4 linked regions of the Homo sapiens genome follow. The main gene of each other region encodes a partner of the protein of the gene in region 3 in a complex. Each region holds a gene or a part of one and is shown on either strand. Other genes may lie near its edges. The genes, in order: MIS18A, TCERG1, PLK1 and CDC25C. A codon is read from its position in the direction of its gene.

Region 1 (7,652 bases), on a different chromosome or scaffold from region 3:
GCATGCTCTCTGTGTTCTTCTAAGGTCCTCTTAGGGAATAGACAATTCTGTAGGCACTTTCATTGCAAACAGAATCCCAGTGAAGAAATGGTAGCGTCAGTCCAAGATACTAATCAACATGGCAATCTTCACTACAGGATGAGAACTGTTTTCCCTTTGCCCCAGGTAGGACATAGGCCGCCTTAGCCTTCCCTGCCTCAGGTGGGGAAGGGGCTGTGGCTGGCCCTGCTCTTTCCCACCTCACCTGTTCCCTGCGGTTTTCATTTCTGCCTAGCCTGAGATGGGGAAAGTGGGGGATAGGACAGTTTTCACTTTGATATGGTTTGGCTCTGTGTTCCCACCCAAATCTCATCTTGAATTGCAATCTCCATGTGTTGAGGGAGGGGCGTGGTGGGAGTAATTGGATCATGGGGGCAGTTCCCCCAGGCTGTTCTCATGATAGTGAGTTCTCACGAGATCTGGTGGTTTTAAAGTGTGGCACCTCCCCTTGGCTTGCTCTCTCTCTCTCCTGCTGCCACGTAAGACGTGCTTTGCTTCCCCTTTGTCTTCCGCCATGATTGCAAGTTTCCTGAGGCCTCCCCAAGCCATGCAGAACTGTGAGTCAGTTAAACCTCTTTCCTTTATAAGTTACCCAGTCTCAAGTAGTTCTTTATAGCAGCATGAGAACGGACTAATACACACTTGAACTTGTTCTAACTTTGTTTTGCACTCTTAGGTAAGATCTAGTTAGACCTGACCCTCTCTCCTAGTCCCCTCGGGGACTCCCTGCACATCCCAAATCCCAGTGCATGCCCATGACCCACTGGGCAAGGCCTCATCTCAGGCTGGCTTTCCCTCTGCCCTGGTTCTCCAGGAGTGCTGTTCACACTTGACTCACCACTGGGGAGTCTTCGTGCTTCCAGGTTAGCTCCTTAGGCAGAAATTAAGACTCTAGGTGACATCCTGCCAGCAAAGTTCCGATCTGGCTGACAACCTACCTTGTTTGCCTTTGTTGTGCTACCAAAACACACGCAGCTTGACGCTCCTGCAGGTCACCCTGTCCCCAAGTGCCTGGGAACCAACAGGTATGTAAGTGTCTCCTCAAAGTCTCTTATCAGCCAAATTGAGGCAAGGAGGCAGATACCCTCATTTTCTCTATTGGGGAGGGGCCCATCTCCAAAGAGATCCTTCCAGTGAAGTCATCTTGGTCACGATTTTCTCCCTTCCTTTATATTCCCAAAGTGTGTGAGAGAGGTGTTTAAGAGAAGGAGGAAATCAGCTAGCATGGTGGCCCATGCCTGTAATCCCAGCACTTTGGGAGGTCGAGGTGGGTGGATTACCTGAGGTCAGGAGTTCAAGACCAGCCTGGTCAACATGGTAAAGCCCCGTCTCTACTAAAAATACAAAGATTAGCTGGGTGTGGTGGCACGTGCCTGTAATCCCAGCTACTCGGGAGGCTGAGGTGGGAGAATCCCTTGAACCTGGGAGGTGGAGGTTGCAGTGAGCTGAGATCATGTCACTGCACTCCAGCCTGAGTGACAGAGTGAGACTCCAAAAAAAAAAAAAATAATAATAAGCAGGAGGAAATCATCTCTCCTAAATCTACTCTGAAGATTCCCCCAGGAAGGAGGGCAATCTCTCTCACACACACTTTGATATCTCATTTTTACTTCATCTTGGAGTCTTAGTGGAAACTTCAATTTTAACATACTGTAACAGATTGCTACATACATTTTTGGTTGCTAGTAAAAACAAAACAACAATTGAAACTGGCTTCCACAATAACTGGAACTGGTTGGCTCACACAACTGGAAGGATCTAGAGATTGGGTGCTGTTTCTCTGTGATTCCCTTACTCAGATTGGGCAAAATTGAACTTGACAAGGCCAAGTTTTTATTCTGAGCCAATCCCTATTGCCAGGGGAGCAGCACGGGTCGCCAGGGGTAGGTGCCATCCCTGCCCCAATCGCTATGGAAGAGTCATGGTCATCCTGATTGATCGGGTTAAACCTCTAGGGACTCATTCCCGGAACTGGTGGTGAGAGTGGTGGAGATGGACTCAACCTTATCCAAATCTCCTAGTTAGATAACTAGGAAGTACGGTGAGAATGTAGTTTAGGAAGCAACCACAACCACAAACTACGAGGTCATCTTTTTCAAGCATCTCATTTTGTCCTCCCATAAATATGATGATTTTGTGGTTAGCTGAGGTTTTGTTTTGTTTTTTATTTTTTTGAGACAGGATCTCATTCTGTCACCCAGGCTGGAGTGCAATAGCATAATCACAGCTTACTGCAGCCTCGACCTCCCAAGCCCAACCCATCCTCCTGCCTCAGCCTCACAAGCAACTGGGACTACAGGGGCGCACCACCATGCCTGGCTAATTTTGAAATCTTTGTAGAGACAGGGTCTCTCTATGTTGCCCAGGTTGTTCTCAAACTCCTGGGCTCAAGTGACTCTCTCGCTTCAGCCTCCCAAAGTGCCGGGGTTACAGGCATGAGCCACCATGGCTAGCCTTGTTTTTATATTCATAATATTAATACAAACACACTTGTGCCTATAGAGGAATTCATTTTGCATCAGCCAACTTCTCCATGATGTGCAGGAGGCATCATGCCTACAAACCATGATATTCTGAAGGACCATGAAAATGTTTCAATTTTTTTAATCAAGAGCAATAAATGAACTTACAGGTCTAAAAATGTTTTATGATATCATTTTAATATAATCATCTTCATAGCAATGTGACTATAAAATGAAATTTTTATTAACTGTTTTATGGAGAGAAAGGCCTACTAAGGCAAAAATAGGGCCCCTGAAAGTCACCACGCAGCTCGGCCTTGTATTCCTTCTTTCCTGGGGCATCCTATCATAGAATTTAAGTATTGACAATAGGAACCCAAAGTCTGAGACAAGATGATCCTTTGAATCCCCAAGTAACTAGCCACTTACTTAAAGAACTCATGTGGATTGTATCAATGTTGTACCAGAGATATTATGCTTGAAAACAACAGTCCAGGAAGGTCAGGCTTGGCTCTACAAAAGTAGAAGGGGCAAAGTATGGTGAGGCATGCCTGTAGTTCCAGCTACTTGGGAGGCTGAGGCAGGAGGATCGCTTGAGGCCAGGAGTTCGAGACCAGCCTGGGCAACATACTGAAACATCATCTCTGAAAAAATAAAGAAAAGAAAAAAAAAAGCAGAAGGAAGGAAGGGAATTCTATGGGTAAAAAAAAAAAGCCTAAATTATCTAAAGCATTTTCTTCCAGTAAGAAGGTGATTAACATGAGCATGGTGTGCCAGGGTTTACAAAGTATTTTCATGAATATTAGAAAACTCGATCCTCATGAACAACTTGGTGTAGTACTGAAGAAACAGACTCCATTTACTCCATGAAGAATTAGACTCAGGGAAGGCAAACAGCCTTTTCCACAGTTCCCTACACTGTTACTACCTTGTGGAGGGAGGGGTAAGTTAACCAGGACCACTGACTCCAAAGCTTTTGCTTTTTGCTAGTGGCTGTAAGCACTAAAATTGGAAGTACATTTACATAAATAGTTTATGCAACCAAGCAAAATAGGCAGTGACTTGGGGGACACCCAGAGCGTAGTAGGAACAGAGTAGGTCCTTGCAGGTAGCTTTCTTCCCAGGTATACCACCAGACTGTCTGTGGTGCAGCTGGCTGGTTCCCCGCCAGCTTTCCCTCCTGACCTACGGTGTTTTAGGCAGAGGCTGGCTTTCTGGGGCAGCTGAGGAAATCTGTCCTTATCATCAACAAGGGATGCTTCTTCCTTGCAAGGACGAATTGTTCCTTGATCCAAGCAGCAGGGACACTTCCAGGCTTTCCAGGGGCACTGCTGCTTCCTCAACTTTTTCCTTGCAGTGACAGCCTGAGTGATCCGGGGCCCTTCCCAGGGTCTCATTCCAGGGATAGCAGTGCGCAAAAGGACCCTGTGATGAGGGACTCCTCTATCCCCTTCCTTCTCCACTTCATGGAAAGGAGGTCCCCAGGAGCCGACAAAATAGAGCAGTGGTCATCAAAAGTGGAGCTGCTTATATACAACTATAATTAGTCCACTTACAAAAAAGAAGAAAAAGGGTGGTGGTCTGGCACAGTGGCTTACGCTTGCGATCCTGGCATTTTGGGAGGCCGAGTAGGGAAGATCGCTTAAGGCTAGGAGTTCGAGACCGGCAACATAGAAAAACTCCCCCCCCCACCCCCCAAAAAAGGTTGGGCTGCCAATACTGACAGCGTGGGCACGCCTAGGAGCTTGTTAGAAATGCAGATTCTCGGGCTAACCTGCTACCTGCTGAACCAGAGTCTGCGAAGATGGAACCTGGCGATCTGCTTAAGAAGCTCGCCAGGCGGTTCTTAGACACTCAAGCTTGCAACCCGTAACTTTCTCAGTGACGCTGCCCCTCCCACGGAAAGGGGTGAATAATCCTTAGGAAGACAAGCAAACAGGTCTGCATCATCAATTTCTTCAGGCTGGAAAACCTGACGCAGGCGCAGTGACTATCACGCTTGGCCAAGGCCGCACGGCGCGCATGCGCACTAGAGGCCGCCCGCCGTCCCGCCCCCTTCAGGCTTTTGCCCCTTCTCGGCCTCCGCCACCGCTCCCCGCCCCGCGCATGAGCAGCGGCGGTTTTTTTTCCCATGGCGCTCTGGGGCGCGGGCGATTTGTAGGTAATGGCAGGCGTTCGGTCACTGAGGTGTAGCAGAGGATGCGCTGGCGGCTGTGAGTGCGGCGACAAGGGCAAATGCAGCGACTCCTCGCTGTTGGGCAAGAGACTCTCCGAAGACTCGAGCCGCCACCAGCTGTTGCAGAAGTGGGCGAGCATGTGGAGCTCCATGAGCGAAGACGCGTCGGTGGCCGACATGGAGAGGGCGCAGCTGGAGGAGGAGGCGGCGGCTGCGGAGGAGAGGCCGCTGGTGTTCCTGTGCTCCGGCTGCCGGCGGCCGCTGGGCGACTCGCTGAGCTGGGTGGCCAGCCAGGAGGACACCAACTGCATCCTGCTTCGCTGTCAGTTGGGTCGAGCCGGGCAGGGGGGGCGTGGGGTCGCCTTCTTCCAGGGGTGCCGCGCGTGGGCGGCCCGGGAGGAGGCGGGGGCTCCTTGGGGCTGCCCAGGGACTTTAAGAGCAAAAAGTCTGAGAGTGTGAGCTGTGGCAGGAAAAGGGGAGGAGGGTCACCCCTCCACTTTGGCTCTCGGGCGGTGGGTTCTTTTCTGGGGTCCCCGATCCCAGAAGAGCAGTGGTTGAATCAGCATCATCGTGAGCATTACTCAGAAACAAAGGGCGACAAAGAATAACACTTTTAAAGACCCTAAAAAAAGAGAAACAAATGGTCAACTAGACTGTAAGCACTTGAGGTGCAGCCAGTACTATTACTCCCCATAGAAATTAGCAGGCTGTTGGTGTATCAGCGGATGCCTCTACAGCCTCCAGTGATAGAGCCGCAGAGTTGACGGAACACAGTGCTATAGGGAAGAAAGGGAAGGAAACTTGCAATAAAAGCACCAACAACCCCATGAAAACTGGCGAGGAAGGAGGATGTAGCAAAAGAGTTCAGAAGAAGGCAGGAATTAGTTTCTAATCCTGGTTCTAGCAGTTACCTCTTACCTCTGTTGTTCCACTGTTCCCTCATTTTGATGTTTTTGCAGTATTTAGGGATAAAGTGGTTCACATATTTTTTATGAATTGGTGTAAGAATGGCTGTTGTTTTTGGATTGTGATTTTTCAAGATGAAGTTTTTTCTGTCTTTGAATGCCGTAAATGTTCCGATGGCAGTAATTCACCACCGGCTTATCGACGTTTCTGGAACGTTTTCCTTGGTGTAATACTGGGAATAAAGGAGCACACCAGTGTCCAGTAGTTAACTGAAAGTTGAGATTAACTCTTTGCACCTATCAAAATCAAACCAGGCCGAGCGCGGTGCCTCAGGCCTGTAATCCCAGCACTTTGGGAGGCCGAAGTGGGCGGATCACGAGATCCGGAGATTGAGACCATCCTTGCCAACATGGTGAATGAAACCCCATCTCTACTAAAAATACAAAAATTCCAGATCAGCCTCGCCAAAATAAAAAATTAGCCGGGCATGGTGGTGTGCGCCTGTAATCCTAGCCACTCCGGAGGCTGAGGCAGGAGAATCACTTGAACCCGGGAGGCGGAGGTTGCAGTGGGCCGAGATTGCGCCACTGCACTCCAGCCTGGAGACAGAGCGAGACAACGTCTCAAAAAAGAAAAAAAAGAAAAAAGCAGATTTTTGGTTAGGTAGGAAAAGCTCTTTGTTTGAATGAGATTCCCTTGTTTACATGTTTTTAAGGAATAACGTGTTTGATGTTACATCTTTCATTTTATTTGTTTGTTTCGATAGAGTGTATTTTTTGCCATGTGGGCTCTTTTCGTTGTTTTGCGTTACTTATAGAAAGACTGTTTTTGTTATTTAATTTTTATAACAATAGCTTTTAAATTTAAAACATAGTTCTAAAATAGTAGTTTAAAATTTAAAGAACTATACATTTTTTGATTTATCAGATTTAGATAATAGGATTTAACACCTCCCCACACCCCCCAGTAAAGACAAATAAATGAACTCGGATTCATTTCCATTCCTTCCTTACCCAATTTGAATTAGTTTAATTATTTTCATTTTGTCAAGGTTTATACATTTACATTCTGTACATTTACATTCTGTTCTGTAGCTATAACAGCCTAACTATGATTTTTTAAAATAGGATTATTTATTTAATAGGTTTTTTTTTAATAGGGTTATAGTGGGTTAACAGCCCTCTGTTGCCCAGGTTGGAGTACAGTGGCGCAATCATAGCTCACTGTATGTAACCTTGAACGCCTGCTCAAACTATCCTCCCGGCTCAGCTTCCCAAGTAGCTTGGGACTACAGATACACACTAACACCTGGCTAATCTTTAAATTTTTTGTAGAGACAGAGTCTTGCTATGTTGCTCAGGCTGATCTCAAACTCCTGGCCCCAAGCAATCCCCTGCTTCGGCCTCCTAAAGTGCTGGGAGTACAGATGTGAGTTACAGCACCCAATCCTATAAAGTTTATATAAATTGTTTTCCCAACTCCAGTACTCATTAACATAAAAAAGCTTCTTAATAGCTTTTTCATTCCTGAATTGTTTGATTAATCATTAGTGCTCCCCACGTCCACATCTCCAAGAAAATTTCAAGTTTATGTGCTAGAAAATATTTTCCTTTTTTTTTTTTTTTTTTTTTTTTTTGAGACAGAGTCTCACTGTGTTGCCCAGGCTGGAGTGCAGTGGTGCAGTCTCAGCTCACTGCAAGCTCCACCTCCCGGGTTCACGCTATTCTCCTGCCTCAGCCTCCTGAGTAGCTGGGACTGCAGGCTCCCGCCACCACACCCCGCTAATTTTTTTGTATCTTTAGTAGAGACGGGGTTTCACCATGTTAGCCAGGATGGTCTCGATCTCCTGACCTCATGATCCGCCTGCCTCGGCCTCCCAAAGTGCTGGGATTATTTTCCTGTATTTATAAGTGAATGCTAGCTTGGCTGCAGGTACAGTTCTTGGTCACGCTCTTTGCTTTTGACAGGTGCTGAGCAGCTGGTGCAAAAGCCTTGAGACTGGTTAAAGAGAATAAAGATAAGATTTAGGGAGGAAGGAAGAGATCAGAAACTGCAAGGCGTTGTAGTCT
Region 2 (7,991 bases), on a different chromosome or scaffold from region 3:
GTTTATTACTTTGAAGCCTCTGCACCTGTTCTCTTTGCCGAGCATGTTCTTCCCCAGATTTTCACATAACTAGCTCCTTCTCATTACTCAGCCTCTAGTTCAAATGTCACCTCAAACTGTTTTCCCACTTCTGGCCTCTACAGGCCCTCTCAGGATCATTATTCCTAATTTGAGTTTTCGATTATGATAAATGCTATGAAGAAATCTCCCATTTACTTCTGTATTATCTTTAGCCACTAGTATATAGTTCCCTTTAGTATACTGTTGCAACACATTAAAACACATTATTGTTTTAATAATGATAGTAAAGTTCCTATATACCAGCATGGTTATACAGACATTATCCGTATTAACTCTTAATCCTCACTACAGCCCAATAAGGTAAGTTTGACACCATTTTTACAGAGGAAATGATAGCACAGAAAAATATTTTCTTAAGGCAGCTAGTCAGTGATAACACCAGAATATTCTTATTCTCATTTTATAGATAAGGAAATTTAGATTGCAAGTATCTTAAGTATTGATAGGTAAACAAAGGCTCTAGGGAAAGGATCTATACAAATGACTCTGGAAGTTACTTTAATGGTATTTGGAACGTCTATAAATTTTCCATCTATTGTGATTTGCATTCCTACCACTTACAACCTTTCTGAAAAACAAAAGCCTACTTGCATGAATAGAAGGAACAAAAATATTTCACAAGAACATCATGGAAATACAAACATAAGGTATTTTTCTACAATAGAAGTTCTCTATCCAGATATGCAATCTCCCCAATGCTAAAGACAATACTTTAACTGGAGGGGCAAGAAATAAAAAGATGCTACCGATATATGGGGGCAAATTGTATAAACTATGATTGAGGAGACCTGAGGTTTAGTCCAGACCCTGCCAACTACCCAGTGACCTTGTGTAAGTCACTTCACACTTACAGGCAGATTTAATCATTTGATGTGGTTGATTTCATTTACAATTTAGATGGCTCTTACTTAAGCTGGAAGCTCCTGCAGGACAAACCTCTTTTTTCGGTCTGGTTCAGGGCACTATTACCAGCACCTAGGTCAGCAACTGTCATGTAGCACACAATAAATGTCGGCCCAATAAGTGAAGTATCTTTAAATCTCCTATCTTCATTTATTTACAACATAACTACAGAACATCTCATTTGCCAGGCGGTTATGACAGACACACCATGAAGTACATTCAGGTTACAAATATAATGCAAAAATTAAGCCCCAACTTCTGCCATCAAAGAGGCCACATACACACCTAATTTCATGAGAAATGCTAAAATAAAGATCTGTACAGTATGCTCTGCAAGCAACTTCCAATCCAAGAGGCTACGGTATAAAATATTTGCAACAGGGCAAATTCATTTGCAAATTAAAGCTCTATTCAAATCAGTTGTGCAACAGTGTCTAGACTATTAATAAAGCCATTTGGATTTTTTTAAAGCTTTAGAAAGATACTTTCTAAAATGCAAAAGAATGTTCCCTAATAAATCCATCTGAAACTAGCTAAGTAACCTCCCTTTAAGATCGAAATCAGGAATAAACTTGGCATCGCTAATATTTAAAGATGCTGACAATTCACCTTGATCACTCATTAATACTGTATACATATGGAGTTTAAAGGATTTCAGATTCATCTCTGAAATAAAACAAAATTTCATTTCTGCCAAAGTGGAGATTTGTGTGTGCGACCATACAGAATCTGAAAGGCATTTTCCTCTTCTAAAACCTTGAATAACAATACCCATTTCCTTACACAATTTCATCTTAAGTTCAAGACAGTATCAACAGAGTCTTCATAATCTACCCTGCTCTTTTTCATTTTCAAACGTTGACAACAGCACAATTCAGAATGGGAGCTGAACATCTGAAATGCCATTTCTCCCATACAGAAAAAAACCAAAGTACCAAATACACATAAAGCATAATACCTCTTTTCCTCAAAAACCACTGACCAAAAGATTTCTCCAGGTCACTCTCATTTTACCAAATTTTAATTACAAACTCATAGACACTGAGGTTCCAGGGGAAAAAAAGGTCACTGCACTGTTCAAGGAAATGGCATGAGTAGTAGACGAATAGAACGCCAATTGGGATTGCAGGCTCTGAAACCTGACTGCCTGAGTTCAAGCCACTTCCTGGAGCCACAAATCCGCCTATGCAATCTTATTCTACTGACTCAACCTCCACGAGGCTGTTATCTCACCTGTAAGATGGGCGAGTAACAACTGAAGACCCCTCTGGTCTGTGGCCTGCAAAATGTTAATAGCAACTACTCCAAAGGGTGGTTGTGAGGATTAAATGAGACAAACCTAAGTAAAGGGTTTACTGGCACACGGTAAGTGCCTAATAAGGGGTTGCTACTGTTGTTGTTACTCACAACTACAGGATAATAAGGAATAAAGGGATGAAAAAAGGAAGAAAAGCCACAGAAGTTAAGAAAGGCAAGCAATGAGGGGGATGAAATGAAAGGGCAAACGTGGGGAGCCCAAAGAGCCGCGGAGGGCGTGGAGAAGGCTTAGCCAGAAGTGGCGAGGGGTACAGGGAAAGTAACTGCGGAGTGCAGAGACGTCGATGAGGAAAATCAGGCCCGCAGCGGAGCGCGGCCTGGGGACAGACTCAGGTCGGCCGAGACGGAGGCGACACGCGGCTGAGGCGGGGCCCAAAGGCGGGAGCACCGCGCCCGGCCAGAGGGCTGCAGGCCGCGAGAGGCGGCGAGGCCCCAAGAAAGCACTAGGAAGCAGCCAGGGAACGCGCAGGAGGCCCTGGCCCAGCCCGGGCCCGGCTCTCATTCAAGCCACCTTCCCCTTCCCCCTTCTTAAACCCCATGCGGTCCCGGCCCGGGCCGCCCGGCTCCGCTACCCACCGTCCGCCCCGGATCTCCACATGGCAGGTCTAGCGTCTAGCCTCTGGGGCTCTCGTGAGCAGAGATGTGAAGGAGGGCAGCGTTCCTTACCTGAGCTCCCCCGGGTTGAATCGTTCACTCTCGCCCCCGTCCCCGCCACGCTCCGCCATTACAGAGGGCCGCGTTCATCCACCCGCCGACCCGACGTCTCCTATTGGCTAGAAAAATCGTCAATCCCCAACGAGAGAGGCGGAGACAGCAGAAGTCTGAGATGCGGTTGGTCAAACTTTCCATCAATCTTCGAAATGGGGGCGATATGTTCTTTGCTATTGGGCAAGGCGCCCGCCGACTTTGAAAGCGGTATGAAGACAGCCAGTTGATTGGTGACTCGGGGGCTTTATGGGAAATGAGATTTTAGCAGTGAGGAACCGCCGGCGCCCTCTCGCGGTAAGCAGAACTAAGTCCTCCCAAGTTCGGCTCAGCCTGCGGTAGCCACGTGTCTGTCGGCTTCCAGGAGAGCCAATTGTGGAGCCATATTGGCCAGTAGTAGCTCAGGCGGAGAGCATTTCCACTGGGCAAGCCAATCAAAATCGACCTGGGCCGCGCCTAAACCGATTGCACAGTTGCTGTGGAAAGCCGCTATTTCCTAGCTTTACAGTAGCAGGAGTCTTAAGTCACCACTCAGCTCTATATCCATGTTATTAAATAATATATTATTAATTACAAGAATACCTCCCAAATTATACTAAACCGTTGCAAGCCAATAGGTGTTATAAGTTGCTGCATTAAGAAAGGTAAATTGGCGAAGGCAAGCCTCTTTGCAATTTACAGCTTAACCACGTCTCCCTCGATCTCAAAATGTGCTTGTCTGAAATTAGCACACCCAGAATACCAGACAATTCTGAATATTTATTTAGTTTTTCTAATTAACAAAAAAAAAAGTTTTGGATTTGGGGTTTCAAAGGCACAATGAAGATGAGCCCTTTTATTAAAGTCGTAAAAATATTAAAATAATACTAATAGATAAATTTTACTTGGACCTAACCATGTAGCAAACCCGGATCTAAGTATGTCAGGTACGTTAACTCTTTTAAGATTCAAAAATTGCTAGGAGGTGGGTAACATAGTCACTGTTTGTAGATGAGCTTGAGGCACAGAGAAGTTAAGTAACTTGCCCAAGGTCACACATCTACTAAATAGCAGAGCCTGGTCTTAACCCCAGTCAGCGTAGTAGCAAAGCAGCACTCTTAAATACTGTAAGCCTAAATAATTGGATCCACATAAAAACATGTGCACAAATGTTCACAGCAGCAATATTCATAATAGCCAAAAAGTATTGTAACAACCCAATGACCATCAGCTGATGCATGGTTAAGAAGCATGGTATAGGCCGGGCGCGGTGGCCCAAACCTGTAATCCCAGCACTTTGGGAGGCCTAGACGGGCGGATCACGAGGTCAGGAGATCAAGACCATCCTGGCTCACACGGTGAAACCCTGTCTCTACTAAAAACAAATAGCCCGGCGTGGTGGCGGGCGCCTGTAGTCCCAGCTACTCGGGAGGCTGTGGCAGGAGAATGGCGTGAACCCCGGAGGCAGAGCTTGCAGTGAGCAGAGATCGCGCCACTGCACTCCAGCCTGGGCAACAGAGCGAGACTCCGTCTCAAAAAAAAAAGAAACATGGTATAACTGTACAATGAAATATTGTTCAGACATAAAAAGCCACATACAAAAAGGCCGCCTGTTGTATGATTCCATTTACATGAAATATGATGAAATTGCATTGCATTTCAGGCAAATACATACAGACAGAAAGTAGAACAGTGGTTTCCAGGAGGTAGAGGGGAATGAGGAATTGGAAGTGACTGCTGATGGATATGGAATGTCTTTTTGGATGATAAAAATGTTCTGGAATTGGCGCTGATGGTTGCACAACTTTGTGAATATACTAAAACCCATTGAATTCTATACTATTTATTTATTTATTTACTTATTTTGAGAGGGAGTGTCACTCTGTCACCCAGGCTGGAGTGCAGTGGCATGATATCAGCTCACTGCAACCTCCGCCTCCCAGGCTCAAGCGATCCTCACACTTCAGCCTCCCAAGTAGCTCCCACAGGCCTCCGCCACCACATCCAGCTAATTTTTTATATTTTTGGTAAAGACGGGGTTTTGCCATGTTGGCCAGGCTGGTCTTGAACTCCTGAGCTGAAGTGATCTGCCCACCTTGGCCTCCCAAAGTGCTGGGATTACAGGTGTGAGCCACTGCATACAGCCAACTCGTATACTTTAAAAGGTGAATTTTATTGTATGTGAATTATATTTTAATTCAAAAACACCATTCTACACTGAATTCCAGTTAAATATTCAAAATCAATTAAATATGATAAATTGTGATAAAGGCTTCACACAGTTCTGAGCATGAGTAATTGGAGGAGAGCATGGTGAAAATTTTGTTAAAGATGTGACATTTGAGGCTGGGTGTGGTGCCACAGGCCTGTAATCCCAGCACTTTGGGAGGCCAAGGCGGGAGGACTGCTTGAGTTTAGGAGTTTGAAACCAGCCTGAGCAAAATGGTGAGACCTCACCACTACAAAAAATCAAAAATATTAGCCAGGCATTGTGGTGCATGACTGTGGTCCCAGCTACTTGACAGGCAGAGGTGGGAGGGCCGCTTGAGCCCACTTGAGTCGAGGCTACTGTGAGCTGTAATTGCAGCACCGCACTCCAGCGTGGGATACAGAGTGAGACACTGTCTTAAAAAAGAAAAAAAAAAAGGTGTGGCATTTGAACAAACTATAGTTTGACTAAAAGTTGGGAGTTAGATCCCTTTTTCAACATCAGTGTGTATCCCCAAGTTCTGGTCAATATTCTGAAAATAATACTGGTATAGATGGCTCATTACAAACTAATTCCTACTAAAAAAAGATTCAAAATAGAAAGCTTATAGAAAATAAGTCACTAGCATATATAAAAGATGAAAACAGGCCGGGCGCTGTGGCTCACGCCTGTAATTCCAGCACTTTGGGAGGCCGAGGCAGGTGGATCACCTGAGGATTTCGAGACCAGCGTGGCCAACATGGCAAAACCCCGTCTCTACTGAAAAAATACAAAAATTAGCTAGGCATGGTGGCACGTGCCTATAGTCCCAGCTACTTGGGAAGCTGAGGCAGGAGAATCGCTTAAACCTGGGAGGCAGAGGTTGCAGTGAGCTGAGATCTCGCCATTGCACTCCAGCCTGTGTGACAGAGTGAGACTTCATCTCAAATAAAAAATGAAAACAAACTGTCAGTTGAAGAAACTCCTTGCAGGTATTAAAAATTTTATTATCTGATAGTTTTTATTATGTTATTTTTATCTAAATATACTTTAAGATATTTATATTATAGTATAATCTTTTAAATAGATTAAGTATATACATATGTATATCTATCACATGTAATGATAATCATATGTGTATATATGTATATATTTCATTATTTCATTGCTATAGTGTATCCCCATAAAAATGTCCTTCAAATTCAGGTAGTTTGGCTCAATAGTTATTTATAACATATTGCAAATTTCTGACTTGAACTATGTCTACACAGCTTTTCTAGAGTGAACCATTTTATTGAATCAAAATGAAAAAGGAATTGAAGAGATTCAGTGCATCTTTTAAGAGACCAAATGGACTTTCCGATAGTCAAAGCTTGATAACTATTTGGATACTGATAATGTACACAACTATATAGAACAGAATAGCAAATACCATCCTTGCTTAATTGGTAACCATTGAATTATTGACCCCCCAAAATTAGCATATCAAGATGAAATGAAGAGAAAATGTTGGTTTCAGACAAATTAATTCATCAGGGCTTAGGTCCTGCTGTGAAGACACTCATCAGAATTGGCTCTTGAGAACTGGTTCCAATGCAGAATCAGGCTTTAAAAAAATAACTGCCATTTTTGAGCACCTATCTTAAATCCATAGGAGGTACATTACATACACTATTTCCAGTCCTTTCAACAGCCCTGCAAGGTGGATGTATTGTCCCCAATTTACAAATGAGGAAACTGAGGCTCAGACAGATGATAGGACTGATGCAAGGCGACATTCAGATAGCTGAAAAGAGGGGAAGCCAGAATTCAAACACGTGTGTGTCTAACACCAAAGCCAGTTAGAGACCACTCAATCCTGTGTCTCACCCAAATCACAATGTATCATTTCTTCCTCTTCCCTCTAGACTGTAAATGCTTTAAAAAGACTGTTTTCCTGGCTGAAGCCCCCAGCTCCTAATAACACACTTATTAACCCATAAACTGTGCAGCTATGTTATTCCTAACTGGAAATACTGGTCTTTGAAATATTTAAAGAGATCTCAGAAATAGAGAATCCCAGGCTGGATGCATCTGCTAGCTCCCTCACAGGCAGTATGGATAGAGGTTGCTAATGAGCTTCGGGGTAAATTAGGTCAGGATTCTAGTCCTGGCTCTATCAACTACTGGCTGTACAATCTTGAGCAAGTCACTTCTCACAGCTTCGACCTTTTTATTTGGAAAACAAAGAGTTGCCCTGAGATTTCATAAATGAACTATTTACCATGGCATAGGCAGCAACTAAAAATCATCAATAAGTAATATTTGTTTACAGAGTTTCTCTAGGGCTGCTATGGTCTGGATTCCTATGTTGAAATTCTTACCCACAAGGTGATTGTATTAGGATGCGAGGCCTTTGGGAGGTGACTAGGTCATGGGGGCAGAACCCTATGAATGTTACTAGAGCGCTTGTAAAAGAGGCCCAGGAGCAACCTCTCGCCCTCTTCTGCCACATGAGGTTAGAGTGAGAAGGTCGTCTGAGGAAGCTAGTTCTCACCTGACACCAAATCTGCTGGCACCTTGACCTTGGACTCTCCAGTCTCTAGAATGTGAGAAATAAATCTCTATTGTTTATGAACCACCCAGTCTATGGTATTTTGTTACAGCAGCCAGAATGGACTGAAAAACGGCATTTTGCTAGCCCGTGCTTTACTGACAAGGTCAAAATCAAGATAGGGTCCACCTTTTTGCATATATATAAGTGAGGACAATGAGATAGCCAAGAAACTAGAACTAAATAAACAATATTACTCCATGAATAGGAAGTGTCATACTAAAT
Region 3 (7,060 bases):
AAGAATCCTGGTCTCACCATGTGTATTCTGCTGAGGGCTTATTCTAGCCAATGTCATGGCTTCTGGGGCTGCTCAGTGGACTTAGGGATTGTCTTCAGGGGCCCCAGAGTTAGAGTGAGTGTCCAGAGGATGCCTGACCTTTGTTCTGACCCTGAGATGATTTCTCTCATGTCTGGGTTGTGGCTGGGAGACTGGTGCCAAATCCTACCTTGTGCTTACAGGTATACCTTGTTAGTGGGCAAACCACCTTTTGAGACTTCTTGCCTAAAAGAGACCTACCTCCGGATCAAGAAGAATGAATACAGTATTCCCAAGGTGACTAATGATGCTTTAAGTTTACATTTATTTTGTTTTCCCCAGAAGCTGTTTATGGAGCCCAGCAATATCCTAGGACCAGAAATAGGTCTATCCCACCTCTAAGGTAGCCACAGAGCTTGAGAGGGCCTGTGTCTGAAATTGCATACAGAACTTGACATGTATGTGCACATAAGCATTTTTTCTAGGGGGAGAGAGTTGGCAGATTCTCAAGAGATTGGGTAACCCAAAAGTTGTGTAAAAAGCAAAAAACAAAGGAGGTAGGAAGGAGTAGGAGGCAAAAGTGCTTAATCTTTAGAAATGGTTTATCTTAATTCAAATGGATTCTGCCACTTAGCGAGATCACATTGGGCAAATGGCCTGCATCTTTTTTTTTTTTTTTTTTATTTGAGGTGGAGTTTTGCTCTTGTTGCCCAGTGCAGTGGCATGATCTTGACTCACTGCAACCTCCACCTCCCAGGTTCAAGCGATTCTCCTGCCTCAGCCTCCCAAGTAGCTGGGATTACAGGCACCCACCACCTCGCCTGGCTTTTTTTTTTTTTTTTTGTATTTTTAGTAGAGACGGGGTTTCACCATGTTGGCCAGGCTGGTCTCGAACTCCTGACCTCAGGTGATCCACCCGCCTTGGCCTCCCAAAGTGCTGGGATTACAGGCGTGAGCCACCATACCCAGCCTGGCCTGCATCTTCTGAACCATAGTTTCCATATATAAAGTGGAGTTCCTGCCTTGGAGCACCTCACAGAGTGCCTTGCATGTGGTGAGTGCTCTCAGAATTATGAATCACTGTGAATCCCAGGGCTTCCTAATGGCATAGTTGTGTGCATTTTCTTTTTTTTTTTTTTTTTTTTTTTGAGATGGAGTCTCGCTCTGTCGCCCAGGCTGGAATGCAGTGGTACAATCTCGGCTCACTGCAAGCTCTGCCTCCCAGGTTCATGGCATTCTCCCGCCTCAGCCTCCTGAGTAGCTGGAACTACAGGCACCAGCCACCATGCCCGGCTTCTTTTTTCTGTATTTGTGGTAGAGACAGGGTTTGACCGTGTTAGCCAGGATGGTCTCGATCTCCTGACCTTGTGATCCACCTGCTTCGGACTCCCTAAGTGCTGAGATTACAGGCGTGAGCCACCGCGCCCGGCCATGGTGTGCATTTTCACAACCACCAACAGAAATACATTTAAAGGAATAGCTGGTTCCTGCAGAAGCCTAGCACACAGCCAGTTTGAAGTGTAGTGTCCTTGTGTGAAGCCAGGAGGCCTGTCACCATAAGGACAGACATAGTAAATCCATCACAAAGTGTCAGTTCACTGTCAGAGACAGCATGGAATCAAGCCAGCTAGACAAGGCCTTCACCCTCTCTGTGCCTCACTTTCCTCCTCTGTGAAAAAGGGATGATAATAGATCCCCACCCCTTAGATGAGTTGGTGAGGGCTAAGTGAGCTAAACACAGGAGTGCTTAGAATGCTTTCCTGGCACATAGTGAGTGCTAGGAAAGTGAGTTGGTGTTCGGCCACAGTCCATTGACCCTTCTGTCAATGGTGCTCAGTAAAGCTGACAGTGGAGAACTTGGCATTGAACCAAGTTGTGAACCACTGACCTGTGGTGTATTTGAGACTGGGGGCTGCATGTGGGCTGGGGACCTGCAGCTCCTTTGAGGCCGTACTGTACTCCAGGTCCCCTTCACATTCTGCTTATGGCTGTCCCTCTCTCTGCCCCAGCACATCAACCCCGTGGCCGCCTCCCTCATCCAGAAGATGCTTCAGACAGATCCCACTGCCCGCCCAACCATTAACGAGCTGCTTAATGACGAGTTCTTTACTTCTGGCTATATCCCTGCCCGTCTCCCCATCACCTGCCTGACCATTCCACCAAGGTTTTCGATTGCTCCCAGCAGCCTGGACCCCAGCAACCGGAAGCCCCTCACAGTCCTCAATAAAGGTACAACAAGGGTCTGGGTAAGAGAGCAGACCCCCCAGAGAAAGCCCAGGTTGTAGGGGTGTGTGCAGCTTAGTCCCTGGCCCTGAGAGCTCAGGTGTGGAGTAGGACAGGCCTCTGTCCTTCAATCCGTGGTTCCAATGCCCATCTGCTTCTCGGCCCTGCCAGGAAAGACTGACCTTACCATGGCTGGATAAACGTACCATGCCCAAGAAGAAGAAAATGGATTGAATGCCAAGCCTGAAAAATTCTTTCAAATCACTTTAATTAATTTAATTTTTTGGAGACAGGGTCTCTCCTCTATTTTCCAGGTTGGAGTGCAGAGGCACAATCACAGCTCACTGCAGCTTTCAACTCTAGGGCTCAATTGATCCTCCCATCTCAGCCTCCCAAGTAGCTGGGACTGTCAGGCATGCACCACCATGCCTGGCTGACTTTTCTAATTTTTGTAGAGACAGTGTTTTGCCATGTTGCCCAGGCTGGTCTTGGAACTCCTGGGCTCAAGCGATCCTTTCACCTCCACCAAAGTGTTGGGATGACAGGCATGAGCTGCTACATCTGGCCTTTAAAAAAATTTCTAACACTTTTTCATGATTCATTGAAAAACATAAAAATTTCCTTTTTTTTGTGGCGTGATCCCGGCTCACTGCAAGCTCTGCCTCCCGGGTTCACGCCGTTCTCCTGCCTCAGCCTCCTGAGTAGCTGGGACTACAGGCGCCCACCACCATGCCCGGCTGTTTTTTTGTATCTTTTAGTAGAGACGGGGTTTCACTGTGTTAGCCAGGATGGTCTCAATCTCCTGACCTCGTGATCCGCCTGCCTCGGCCTCCCAAAGGGCTGAGATTACAGGCGTGAACCACCAGGCCCGGCCTTTTTTTTTTTTTTTTTTTTTTTTTTTTTTTTTTTTTTTTTTGAGACAGGGTCTGGCTCTGTCTCCTAGGCTGGAGGGGAGTGGTATGATCTCGATTTCACTAAGGATACATAGTTTTAAAAAGTCACTTGAAATACTTTTTTTCTCTGTGGATATATCACCAATTTGATGTACAACTTCAGTTCATTTTTCAGTTTTCAATTTTTAGGTATTGGTTTTTCTTAAACTTCATTTTGGAATAATTTTAGGCTTATACAGAAAAGTTGCAACAACAACAAAAAACTCCCCAGAGTTCCTACATACCTTGCAGCAATTATTACAGTGGAATTTTTTTTGAGACAGGTCTCAGGACTTGCTGTCACCCAGGCTGGAATGCAGTGGCTCACTCATAGCTTACTGCAGCCCCAACATCCTGGGCTCAAACAGTCCCCCTGCCTTACCCTCCAGAGTAGCTAGGACTACAGGCATGTGCCACCATACCCAGCTAATTAAAAAATTTTTTTCTTTGGGAGGCCGAGGTGGGTGGATTGCCCGAGCTCAGGAGTTCGAGATCAGCCTGGGCAACATGGCGAAACGCTGTCTCTACTAAAAATACAAAAGACTAGCCGGGCGTGGTGGTGTGCACCTGTAATCTCAGCTACTCGGGACACTGAGGCACAAGAATCACTTGAACCTGGAAGGCGGAGGTTGCAGTGAGCCGAGGTCTCACCACTGCACTCCAGCCTGGGCAACAGAGCGAGACTCTGTCTCAAAAAAAAAAAAAAATTTTTTTTTTGTAAAGACAAGATCTCACTATGTCGACCAGGCTTATCTCAAACTCCTGCCCTCAAGTGATCCTCCTCGGCCTCCCAAAGTGTTAGGATTTACAGGTGTGAGCCACTGTGCCCTGCCTAGAATGATGTTCTAATGGTAATTTTTCTTTTCCTCACTTTTTTTGCATTTAATAATTGGAATTCTTCTGTAAGGAAGAGCTGTTCCTTCTCTCCGATTGATTTATTTATTTGGTTATGTCTGAAATAGACTCATGGATATTTTTATTCTTTGGGCTATATTTTAAAGGATTACTTATTTCTCTGCTTTTATTTATTTTTTTAAATTTGAGACAGGGTCTTGCTCTGTCTCCCGGGCTGGAGTGCAGTGGCACAGTCGTACCTCACAGTAGCTTTGATCTCCTGGGCTCAAGTGATCCTCCAGCCTCAGCCTCCCAAGTAGTTGAGACTTTAGGCATGTGCCACCGCGTCTGACCAATTTTTAAATTTTTGGTAGAGATGAGGTCTTGCCCACACTGGTCTCAAACTCCTGAGCTCAAGTGATCCTCCTGCCTCAGACTCCTACTTTTTTTCTTTCAGTTTTAATTTTTTATATAGCATTTTAAAAACTTAAGGAAATTTTCAGTTACCCGAAGGTGGAGAGAACTGTATGATGAGTCCCATGTTTCATCTATTTTTACTAGTTATCAACATTTGGACAGACTGTTTTATTTATTCCAGCCTCCTGCCTTTTTTGTTACCGGTGTTTTAAAAAATTATTATTTACTATTTATTATTATTTATTTGAGACATTCTTGCTTTGTTGCCCAGGCTGGAGTGCTGTGGCAAGATCATGGCTCACTGCAGCCTCCACCTCCTGCGTTCAAGTGACTCTCCCACCTCAGCCTCCCAAGTAGCTAGGACTACAGGTGTGCCACCATGTCCAGCTAGTTTCTGTATTTTTAGTAAAGACAGGGTTTTGCCATGTTGCTCAGGCTGGTCTCAAACTCCTGAGCTCAAACAATCTACCTGCCTCGGTCTCTCATAGTGTTGGGATTACAAGTGTGAGCCACTGGGCCTGGCCTTGCTGGAGTGTTTAAAGCAAATCCCTAATATCTTATTATTTCATACCCAAGTCCCTATCATGACATCGTTTTTTAATTGAAAACTTAAACATTTTATATTATACAAGGAGAATTAGCACATGGTGGTGGGGGAATAAATAAATAAGGAAAAAGACAATAAGAATAATCTGTGTTTCTACTGCCCAGATATAATCAGCGTTAAAATTTCATGTTATCTTTTCAAGCTTTTTTGGTTATAAATAAGCATATAAAGCAAATTTTGGGGTGGAAAAAAATTTCTTGTGTTTTTATTTAAATGCCTACTGAATCCATTCTGTGGATGAACTGAACTACTCAGCCCTTCCATCTGCCTGGATGCTGAAGATGCTTTCCATTCTTTGCTCAAAGCTGGGCAGCTCTGAGCTGCTGGTGCCTTCAAGCTGTTTGCCTGAGTGGCAGGTCATCCTGCAGGGCCACACCGTTGGGTCAGAGGCCACGGCTTCTGAAGATCTGTTGCCTCACAGTGAGCACTATGTGCCTGTCACCTGAGCATGGCAGCTGCTGCTCTAGTAACCAGGCACTGATTCAGTTTCCCCAAAGCAGTGGTAGCTAAGAGAATTTTTCTTTCGGAAGAGTTTCAGCTGTGGCAGGGGAGTCCCGTGCCCTTCCCAACGCCCCTGTTTTTGTCACCTTCCTAGGCTTGGAGAACCCCCTGCCTGAGCGTCCCCGGGAAAAAGAAGAACCAGTGGTTCGAGAGACAGGTGAGGTGGTCGACTGCCACCTCAGTGACATGCTGCAGCAGCTGCACAGTGTCAATGCCTCCAAGCCCTCGGAGCGTGGGCTGGTCAGGCAAGGTGGGTACTGCGGGGCCCTGGGCGGGGCAGGATTGCTTGGGGCATCTGGAAAAGGCAGGAGGAGGCTTGGCCAACAAAGCACTGGTGACTTGTTCAGGCCCTGTCTGCATAGGACCATTGGTTTCCCCATTTCCTGATATCCAAGGCCCTGCTTCCGTGGCTCCTGCCGCCTTTTCTGATCCGTCTTTTTTACTCTAGCACCTCGATGTGCCACCTTCATACGCTGTTTCTTTTGCTCAGTAAGTTCCTATTGTATCTTCAAGACCCTTGAAATAACAGACCCAGATGTACTGCAGCCTCAGGGCTTTCTCCCTGGTCCTGGCACGAAAGCACTTCTTCCAGACACCACATGGCTCACACTGTGGCCTCCTTCAAGTGTCTGCTCCAGTGTCAGCTCTGTGAGCATCTCCCTGGCCCCTCTGCTGGTGCTTCTCATCCTCTTGCCCACTGCATAGTTCTCCATAACACTTCTCACCCAACATAGTCCAACATGTCCTTCTTTGTTTATTGGATTTAAATTAAGGGGTTTGTTGCATGCACTGAACGTAACATTTTGATGTGTTTGCAACTGGCTTCTGTCTTCACAGTTTCTTAATTACTCCAAACTGGAAAACTAGATGCCTCTGACTCTTACCATGATAGAAGTCACTGATATTTTGCCCATACTTAAATTGATTAGTCTTTGCCCCTACAACCACAGTGTAAGCTCCGTGGAGGCTGGGGTTTTGTCTGTTGCTCACTGAACCTGCAACAGTGCCTGGCACGGTAGGCCTTCAGTAAATGGGTCAGTGGAATGAAGGAGTGAGTGGAACTTGGTGCGCTGTGCTGAGACTTTCTCTGCAGAGATATCTGTGCTGCTGCTTGTCTGAGCCTGCTGGCAGCAGAGGCCCTGCTTTGCTCTTCTCTGGGGCCCTAGGCCTCTCAACTGAGCCCAGGTGGGGTGCCCAGCAGGCTTCCCTGTTCCCTGGTGTGGGCCACATGTGTGGAGCAGAGGGGAAGAGGCTGGTCCTGACCAACTAACTGTCTGTCTGTTTCTGTCTCAGAGGAGGCTGAGGATCCTGCCTGCATCCCCATCTTCTGGGTCAGCAAGTGGGTGGACTATTCGGACAAGTACGGCCTTGGTAGGTTTCTTCCAGAACAGGTGGGTGACTCAGGCACAGCCAGGTGACCTTTTCAGTTGTTACAGACTCTGGCCTTTTTGAGCTCCCAGGTACTGTTCTCAGTGCCCTCCTCTCTCCATCCCAGGCCTCCCAGTTCCAGCTCCCAGTGCTCCCTGAC
Region 4 (7,893 bases), on a different chromosome or scaffold from region 3:
ATCACAGCTCACTGCAGCCTTGAACTTCTGGGCTCAAGCAATCCTTTCCATCTCAGCCTCCTGAATAGCTAGAACTACAGGGGTGTGCCACCATGCCCAGCATATTTATTTCTATTTTTGTAGAGAGAGGCGTCTTGCTATGTTGCCCAGGGTAGTCTCAAACTCCTGGCCTCAAACAATCTTCCCATCTTGGCCTCACAAAGTGCTGGGATTGGCGTGGTGTCTCACACCTGTAATCCTAGCACTTTGGGAGGCTGAGGCAGACGGATCACCTGAGGTCAGGAGTTCGAGACCAGCCTGGCAACAAAGTGAAACCCCGTCTCTACTAAAAAATACAAAAATTAGCTGGGCATTGTGGCGCCCATCTGTAATCCCAGCTACTCGGGAGGCTGAGGCAGGAGAATCGCTTGAACCGGGGAGGCAGAGATTGCAGTGAGCCGAGATTGTGCCACTGCACTCCAGCCTGGGCAACAGAATGAGACTCTGTCTCAAAAAAAAAAAAAAACAAATGAACAAAAAACGAAGTGCTGGGATTCCAGGTGTGAACCACCACACTTGACCTACATACTTTGATATATATTCTCATTTTTTCTTACAATCATCAAATGAAACAAAACCTTCTCTTTGACAAATGAAACAGCCCAAGAAGTTAAGTGACTGCCCACATGGTAGGCAAAGGTACTCTCAAAAAGCAGTCTAAAAGCCCTTGCTTTTCACCACTAAGCTGTTCACCTTTTTATTATTAATTAAATTAATAATTTAATTATTATGAATTAAATGGTTGAGTTAAAAGTAGGCATTGGCTCATTTGCAAAACATTGAAAGAAACTGAGACCCAAAACAAAACAAAAAAAACAAAACAAAAAAAAAAACCCTGCAAGTCAAGTTTCAGGCCTCATTTCAAAGGAAGGTTACATCCCCTTTCGTCATCTATAAAATGGCCTCCCAGTGCAGCCCAACACTCCTACCCATAATTAAATCTCCTTATTCCACTTTTAGTTCCCAAGGATTTTTTACTCATGTCCTGCTCTTTCCCTGCTGCCCCCTTTTTAGTCTTTTGTTCTTGAGCCACTGCTTTGAACTGCATCTTAATTATGCCCTCATGGGCCAAACCCCATCTGTGACCCTGCTCCAGTGGGTTTCAGCAAAGGATACTCTCCATCCATATTCTGAGGGCTCCAGGGCCTGGAGCCAGTCATCCAGGAGGTCATCCAAAGGAGTGGAATCCATTGGTTCTAAGACTCTTCATTCCCTGCCTAGGAAGGAACAGCCGAGTTGGAGGAACATGCACTCGATTCAGACCTTCCCTTTTCACCCAGTGAAAGCTAAACCTCTGCAAAGTGGGGAGAAGTAGGGCTAAGCCTACCAGTCATAAAAAGAACCAGGAATAGAAAACACACCCCTCAGCCCCTCTGCCCTGCAGAGGCTGGCTGGGAGGATCCCAGGAATGCAGGGCTCTTCTCCACTGCCTGATCTGGGCATCCCAGGAGTGATGGCTGTACCTCCTGTTCTTGTTTGGTGTTTCAGGGTGAAGCCCGGGCTGTCACTGTGCCCTGGCAACAACATGTATGAGTCAGACTGAGGTCAAGGTGAAGGAACACAGCTCACTGCTTATCACAGTGAATCAGGAGCCTAGATAGGGATTCCCCAAGGATGACATAGGATCAATGCCCTCAATCCAACAGAAAAAGTAAATCTTCAAATCAGATTAAACACCAAACTTCCCACCTCCCTAATATTCTTTCTTCTGGGAAGGATAACTTAGATATATTCCAACACCCTCATAAATCAAGATATAAAAGACAATATTTGACTTCCCTTTAAAATAATTCTACCATTTCACAGTTTGTATGTATGCATGTAAACTTACATGTAATTAGCTAAGTATGTTGCAATTAGCTAAGCCAGCTGGAATCATGAGGAGATAGTGAAAATGTTTGCTAGGAAAACAACCTCATTAACAAACGTAGAGCTTTTAAGAGTTTTGTTGGCTGGGCATGGTGGCTCACACCTGTAATCCCAGCACTTTGGGAGGCCGAGGTGGGTGGATTACCTCAGGTCAGGAGTTTGAGACCAGCCTGGCCAACACAGCGAAACCCTGTCTCAACTAAAAATACAAAAATTAGCCAGGTGTGGTGGCGCATGCCTGTAATCCCAGCTACTCAGGAGGCTGAGGCAAGAGAATCACTTGAACAGAGGTTGCAGTGAGCTGAGATTGCGCCATTGCACTCCAGCCTAGGCAACAAGAAAGAAACTGTCTCAAAAAAAAAAAGTTTTTTTGTTGTTGTTTTTAGGAGACAGTCTCACTATGTTGCCCAGGCTGGCCTCAAACTCCTGGGCTCAAGTGATCCTCCCAAGTAGCTGGGACTACAGGCGCACCACTGCATCTGTAAAAAGTCTTAAGGGCGGCCGGGCGCAGTGGCTCATGCCTGTAATCCCAGCACTTTGGGAGGCCGAGGTGGGTGGATCATTTGAGGTCAGGAGTTCCAGAACAGCCTGGACAATATGGTGAAACCCCACCTCTATTAAAAATACAAAAATCAGCCAGGCGTGGTGGCGGGCACCTGTAGTCCCAGCTACTCGGGAGGCTGAGGCAGGAGAATAACTTGAACCCAGGAGGCAGAGGTTGCAGTGGGCCAAGATTGCGCCACTGTACTCTAGCCCGGGAGAGAGCGAGACTCCATCTTAAAAAAAAAAAAAATACTCTTAAGAGCTAGGTGTATAAGTTCCATTTGAGAAATCTCAGAAACTTATTTTTGGGGCTAGATTTTTGGAGAATTTGTTTTAGGAATGCTGCAACTTTGTCAGAGTGCTCAGATTTTAGTATATTTCCATCACCTGACATTGAACTAAAGCCACTTGGCTGACACCTTTGTTGTGACCACCCACAACTGCACTTACTTGAGGACCTGGTGCAGAAAGCACTGGTAGCCAGGTGTGCACTTGCCATAATCTATCTGCTTTTGCCACCAATAGAGAATAACTTTGTCTCTACTTCCCACCTGCAGGGAAGTATACAATTTCCCACAAAGTGTGATTATACTGTAGTCGTCAAAGCAGATAACAACTCATCCCACACTCCCTTAATCCCCAGCCTGATTTTCAAACTCACCTGGCATAGCAAGGTTCTGTGCTAACTCCTACACTCACTGTCTGTATCCTAGAGGACAAAGAATCTTCACACATCTCCTTTCTGGGGAAGCAGGTTCTGCAGATGAAAAGGGTATTAGGATAAAAACCAGCTGGCTACACTGTGCCTCTCAGCCACTACCACCACCAAGATCCTGACAACAGACACAAGTTGCATTTTGACTTTTGTTTCTCAAAGCATGATCTGCAAGCCGTCTGCATGGGTAGCACCTGGGGGCCTTGATAATGACCCCACTTTAGACCTATCGAATTATCGTTTTTGGAGCCTACATCTTAAAGAGCTTCCAAGGTTATTTTGAACATTTTTATTATGGAAATTTTCAAATATACATTGAAGTAAGAAGTATGGGGTAATACCTTACCACGCAAAGTATGGTCGTAGGACCAGCTACCTCACCATCAGCTGGGGGCTTGTTAGAAGGGCAGAATCTTGGGCCGCAACCGCAACCCAGACATCCCGAATCAGAATCTGCATTTAGCAGGTCCTCAGGTGGTTAGTGTGCAAATTAAACCTTGAGAAGCACAGATATGATGGACCCTCCTGCCCCCATCACTCAACAGTCAGGGTCAATCTTGTATCATCAATACCTTCCCCCAGCACAGGATTATTTAAAAGCAAATCCCTAACATTAGGAATGTCTTTTTGTTTGTTTCACTCTAATGCCCAGGCTGGAGTGCAGTGGCGCAACCTCTGTCTCCCGAGTTCAAGCAGTTCTCATGCCTCAGCCTCCCAAGTAGCTGGGATTACAGGTGTGTGCCACCACAACCGGCTAAATTTTGTATTTTTAGTAGAGACGGGGTTTCATCATGTTGGCCAGGCTGGTTTTGAACCCCTGACCTCATGTAATCTGCCCGCCTCGGCCTCCCAAAGTGCTGGGATTACAGGTGTGGGCCAACGCGTCCGGCCAATAATTTATAAATATCACCTCGTCAATGTTCAAATTTTCATTAATAACCAATCTTTGAGGTCCTCTGGATTGCGATAAGGATTATACCAAGATGATTTAATTCCTCCACTTTCCCTGCAACGGAATTTCTTTTTACCCACGTGAGCTAGAGTCTCTGAGATGCTGCACACTAAAAGAAACACCAAACAAAGCTCTTGGAAGGGGCTAATGCCTCTCAGCATAAACACACACACCCGTCTCGCCCCAACACTTGCCACGCCGGCAGCAAACGCTCCATCTCCCGTGGAAGGCCAGCAAAACTTAGAAGAAAACGTCCGCGAAAACGGCACGAGAAAGAAGCGAAGAAAATGAAACGCTTACAACACCCTCCACCCAAAATAATCTCTCCTAGTATTACCCTAGTGAATGGACATCACTAGTAAGGCGCGGTTTAAATCTCCCGGGGTTCGTGGGGCTGAGGGAACGAGGAAAACAGAAAGGGTGTGGAGATTGGTGAGAGGGAGAGCCAATGATGCGCCAGGCTCCCCGTGAGGCGGAGCTTACCCCGCAGCCTGCCTAACGCTGGTGGGCCAAACACTATCCTGCTCTGGCTATGGGGCGGGGCAAGTCTTACCATTTCCAGAGCAAGCACACGCCCCCAGGTGATCTGCGAGCCCAACGATAGGCCATGAGGCCCTGGGCGCGCGCGCGGAGATTGGCTGACGCAGCTTAGAGGCGAGCGGGGATAGGTTACTGGGCTGGCGGAAGGTTTGAATGGTCAACGCCTGCGGCTGTTGATATTCTTGCTCAGAGGCCGTAACTTTGGCCTTCTGCTCAGGGAAGACTCTGAGTCCGACGTTGGCCTACCCAGTCGGAAGGCAGAGCTGCAATCTAGTTAACTACCTCCTTTCCCCTAGATTTCCTTTCATTCTGCTCAAGTCTTCGCCTGTGTCCGATCCCTATCTACTTTCTCTCCTCTTGTAGGCAAGCCTCAGACTCCAGGCTTGAGGTAAGTCCGCAGCCGTCTCCGCCACGGAATCACGGAGACCCCATTGTCCCCCTTAGGGTCCAGTCGGGCCCCCACAGACAGAGGTTGGGAGGGCCGAATGGGGACTATCGCGAGTTACGAGACCCGGGTTCTTTCTAGTCAGGAGTCTCGAGCTGTGTGGCGTGGAACAAGTCAAAATCCTCTCTTCATTCCATCTTTAAGGTCCTAAGGTTGCCTCTCGTCGGTGAATTCAGGTTCTAACCTTAAGCCAGGCTGTGAATCACCCTTCGGGGTTGCCCCTCTTCCAGTGTTGATTCGCCTGGCTGGAAAGGGTGGAGGAGTTTAGGAAAGCTGAGGGAACTGTGATGTACCGATTTAGATGACGTTTTCCTCCTAGCTAGGTTTTGTTTTTCTCCTGGTGAGAATTCGAAGACCATGTCTACGGAACTCTTCTCATCCACAAGAGAGGAAGGAAGCTCTGGCTCAGGACCCAGTTTTAGGTCTAATCAAAGGAAAATGTTAAACCTGCTCCTGGAGAGAGACACTTCCTTTACCGTCTGTCCAGATGTCCCTAGAACTCCAGTGGGCAAATTTCTTGGTGATTCTGCAAACCTAAGCATTTTGTCTGGGTAAATATACTTTTATTTTTACACTGTATTGCCTTTGCTATTTCCAAACAGTTGGGTTTGTTTGTTGGTTTGTTTTCAATTATCCCGGCTCAAAGGTCAGGCTTTAAGTCTCAACTCTGCCCTTGACTGTGTAACCCTTTTGAGTCTCACCTTCTTTTCTGTGACAAGAAATAATCTCAGCCAGGCGAGGTGGCTCATGCCTGTAATCTCCGCACTTTGGGAGGCCAAGGAGGGCGGATCGCCTGAGTCTAGGAGTTCAAGACCAGCCTGGGCAACATGGCAAGACGCCGTCTCTACAAAAAATATTAAAAGTTAGCTGAGTGTGGTGGTGTGCACCTATAGTCCCAGCAACTCGGGAGGCTGAGGTGGGAGGATTGCTTGAGCCCGGGAGGTGGAGGCTGCAGTTAGCCAAGATCGCCTCACTGCACTTCAGCCTGGGAAACAGAGTGAGACTCTATCTCAAAAAGAAAAGAAAAGACAAAGAAATAATAATCGCTTCCTATCTTACTAGGATCTTGTGAGAATCAAATGATGTGATAACTGGGAAAAGTCTTTGAAAACCGCTGCATTACGAGTCGGTCACTTTATTAGTATTAATATTAGTGTTATTGCAGTTGTACTTTGAATTCTGATCATACCATGTCTCAACTAGCAAAGAGAAGTAGTACCTGAGAAAAACTAGGGACCCCAGGGAGAAATCAAGCCTGTGTTCATAGTGCTCAGGACCGGGAATGTGGAGTCAAGATCCCCCTCGGCCAATAAACTCTGGGCCTCATTTAAAAAAAAAAAAATTATCTGTTTCAGTATGTTGGTAAGGAGAAAATAAAGTACAGATTATGGTAGTGGGAGATTTTTCTCAGCCCAGTCTGATATATTTCCCAAAAGCAATTAGATTTATTTGGACACTGTTCAGATGATCTGATAGTCATTAAGGGGTGTTTCAAATGAACAGGCTTGGCCAGGCGTTGTGGCTCACACCTGTAATCCCAGCACTTTGGAAGGCCGAGGTGGGTGGATCACCTGAGGTTAGGAGTTTAAGACCAGCCTGGCTGACATGGTGAAGCCCCATCTCTACTACAAATACAAAAATTAGCTGGGCGTGGTGGCAGGCGCCTGTGATCCCAGCTATTTGGGAGGCTGAGGCAGGAGAATCGCTTGAACCCGGGAGGCGGAGGTTGCAGTGAGCCAAGATCGTGCCACTGCACTTGAGCTGGGGGGACAGAGCAAGACTCCACTGCAAAAAAAAAAAAAAAAAAAAAAGAAGAGGATGACATGATCTTTGACTTTTAAGGATATAATAATCTAATGGGAATTTCGATGTACTATTATGTCTCAACAGAGGAACCCCAAAACGTTGCCTCGATCTTTCGAATCTTAGCAGTGGGGAGATAACTGCCACTCAGCTTACCACTTCTGCAGACCTTGATGAAACTGGTAGGGAGAAGGGAGATAAAGGCCTCAAAGGGAAGAATAACTTTTAAGGGAGAAAACAGGGAAGGAGGATAGAGACGGAAGGTGGTGAAAGTATAAAAAGAATCTGCCTAGAGAGATGGAATTTTGTGGGTAACTAGAGGATTTTTGAGAATGATTAAGCCAATGGGAAGAGAAAGATAATAACACTAATAGGAGCTACTTTGCATATGAAAATGTTAGACAAGTAGGAATATATTTTGTTGACTGATTAATGGTGGGAATGAAAGTATAGTCATTAGGATATGAGAAGTTTTGTGCCTCAGTCTAATCTCAGCAGAGGCAAAGAAACCAGCATAAAGAAATATGTTGTTGGCCAGGTGCAGTGGCTCATGCCTGTAATCCCAGCACTTTGGGAGGGCAAGGCGGGCGGGTCACGAGGTCAAGAGATCGAGACCATCCTGGCCAACATGGTGAAACCCCATCTCTACTAAAAATACAAAAGTTAGTTTGGCATGGTGGCACGTGCCTGTAGGCCCAGCTACTGGGGAGGCTGAGGCAGGAGAATCTCTTGAACCCGGGAGGTGGAGGTTGCAGTGAGCCAAGATAGCACCAATGCACTCCCGCCTGGCGACAGAGCGAGACTGCATCTCAAAAAAAAAGAAATATGTTGTCAACTAATTTTTATATGTTTTATATGAAATATTCCAAAAGGAATGTTTCATAAGTTAACCTTCCAGAATTCTAATTTCAGATTTTCTGAGTGATAACCTTTCTTTTCTACCCATAAGAAAAAAAAAAACTCCATAGGTAGCATAGTGTAGTGTTT

What was found.
Region 1: the proteins of PLK1 (region 3) and MIS18A are in contact, whole or in part, in a crystal structure (PDB 8S30), measured with the Homo sapiens proteins. Residues at the interface, in NP_005021.2 of Homo sapiens: Lys413 (codon at 6,870), Trp414 (codon at 6,873), Val415 (codon at 6,876), Asp416 (codon at 6,879), Asp419 (codon at 6,888), Leu490, Leu491, Arg516, Asn533, Phe534, Phe535, His538, Lys540; in NP_061817.1 of Homo sapiens: Ser50 (codon at 4,813), Met51 (codon at 4,816), Trp52 (codon at 4,819), Ser53 (codon at 4,822), Ser54 (codon at 4,825), Met55 (codon at 4,828).
Region 2: the proteins of PLK1 (region 3) and TCERG1 are in contact, whole or in part, in a crystal structure (PDB 3Q1I), measured with the Homo sapiens proteins. Residues at the interface, in NP_005021.2 of Homo sapiens: Lys413 (codon at 6,870), Trp414 (codon at 6,873), Val415 (codon at 6,876), Asp416 (codon at 6,879), Tyr485, His489, Leu490, Leu491, Arg516, Phe534, Phe535, His538, Lys540; in NP_006697.2 of Homo sapiens: Pro101, Pro102, Pro103, Met104, Ser105, Ser106, Met107.
Region 4: the proteins of PLK1 (region 3) and CDC25C are in contact, whole or in part, in a crystal structure (PDB 3BZI), measured with the Homo sapiens proteins. Residues at the interface, in NP_005021.2 of Homo sapiens: Lys413 (codon at 6,870), Trp414 (codon at 6,873), Val415 (codon at 6,876), Asp416 (codon at 6,879), Tyr417 (codon at 6,882), Tyr485, Glu488, His489, Leu490, Leu491, Arg516, Phe534, His538, Lys540; in NP_001274511.1 of Homo sapiens: Leu126, Leu127, Cys128, Ser129, Thr130, Pro131, Asn132.

The regions. Positions count from the first base shown.
Region 1 is NC_000021.9:32,276,028-32,283,679, reverse strand, and holds the start of MIS18A (protein Mis18-alpha), read left to right. Parts: upstream 1-4,630; 5' UTR 4,631-4,665; coding exon 4,666-4,999; intron 5,000-7,652. UniProt on the Homo sapiens protein: Required for recruitment of CENPA to centromeres and normal chromosome segregation during mitosis.
Region 2 is NC_000005.10:146,442,385-146,450,375, reverse strand, and holds the start of TCERG1 (transcription elongation regulator 1), read right to left. Parts: upstream 3,044-7,991; 5' UTR 3,027-3,043; coding exon 2,968-3,026; exon of another isoform or gene 2,878-2,967; intron 1-2,877. UniProt on the Homo sapiens protein: Transcription factor that binds RNA polymerase II and inhibits the elongation of transcripts from target promoters. Regulates transcription elongation in a TATA box-dependent manner.
Region 3 is NC_000016.10:23,681,843-23,688,902, forward strand, and holds part of PLK1 (serine/threonine-protein kinase PLK1), read left to right. Parts: intron 1-221; coding exon 222-315; intron 316-2,027; coding exon 2,028-2,247; intron 2,248-5,626; coding exon 5,627-5,782; intron 5,783-6,825; coding exon 6,826-6,903; intron 6,904-7,060. UniProt on the Homo sapiens protein: Serine/threonine-protein kinase that performs several important functions throughout M phase of the cell cycle, including the regulation of centrosome maturation and spindle assembly, the removal of cohesins from chromosome arms, the inactivation of anaphase-promoting complex/cyclosome (APC/C) inhibitors, and the regulation of mitotic exit and cytokinesis.
Region 4 is NC_000005.10:138,328,748-138,336,640, reverse strand, and holds the start of CDC25C (M-phase inducer phosphatase 3), read left to right. Parts: upstream 1-4,836; 5' UTR 4,837-5,021; coding exon of another isoform or gene 5,022-5,046; intron 5,047-5,422; coding exon of another isoform or gene 5,423-5,460; coding exon 5,461-5,654; intron 5,655-6,993; coding exon 6,994-7,088; intron 7,089-7,893. UniProt on the Homo sapiens protein: Functions as a dosage-dependent inducer in mitotic control. Tyrosine protein phosphatase required for progression of the cell cycle. When phosphorylated, highly effective in activating G2 cells into prophase.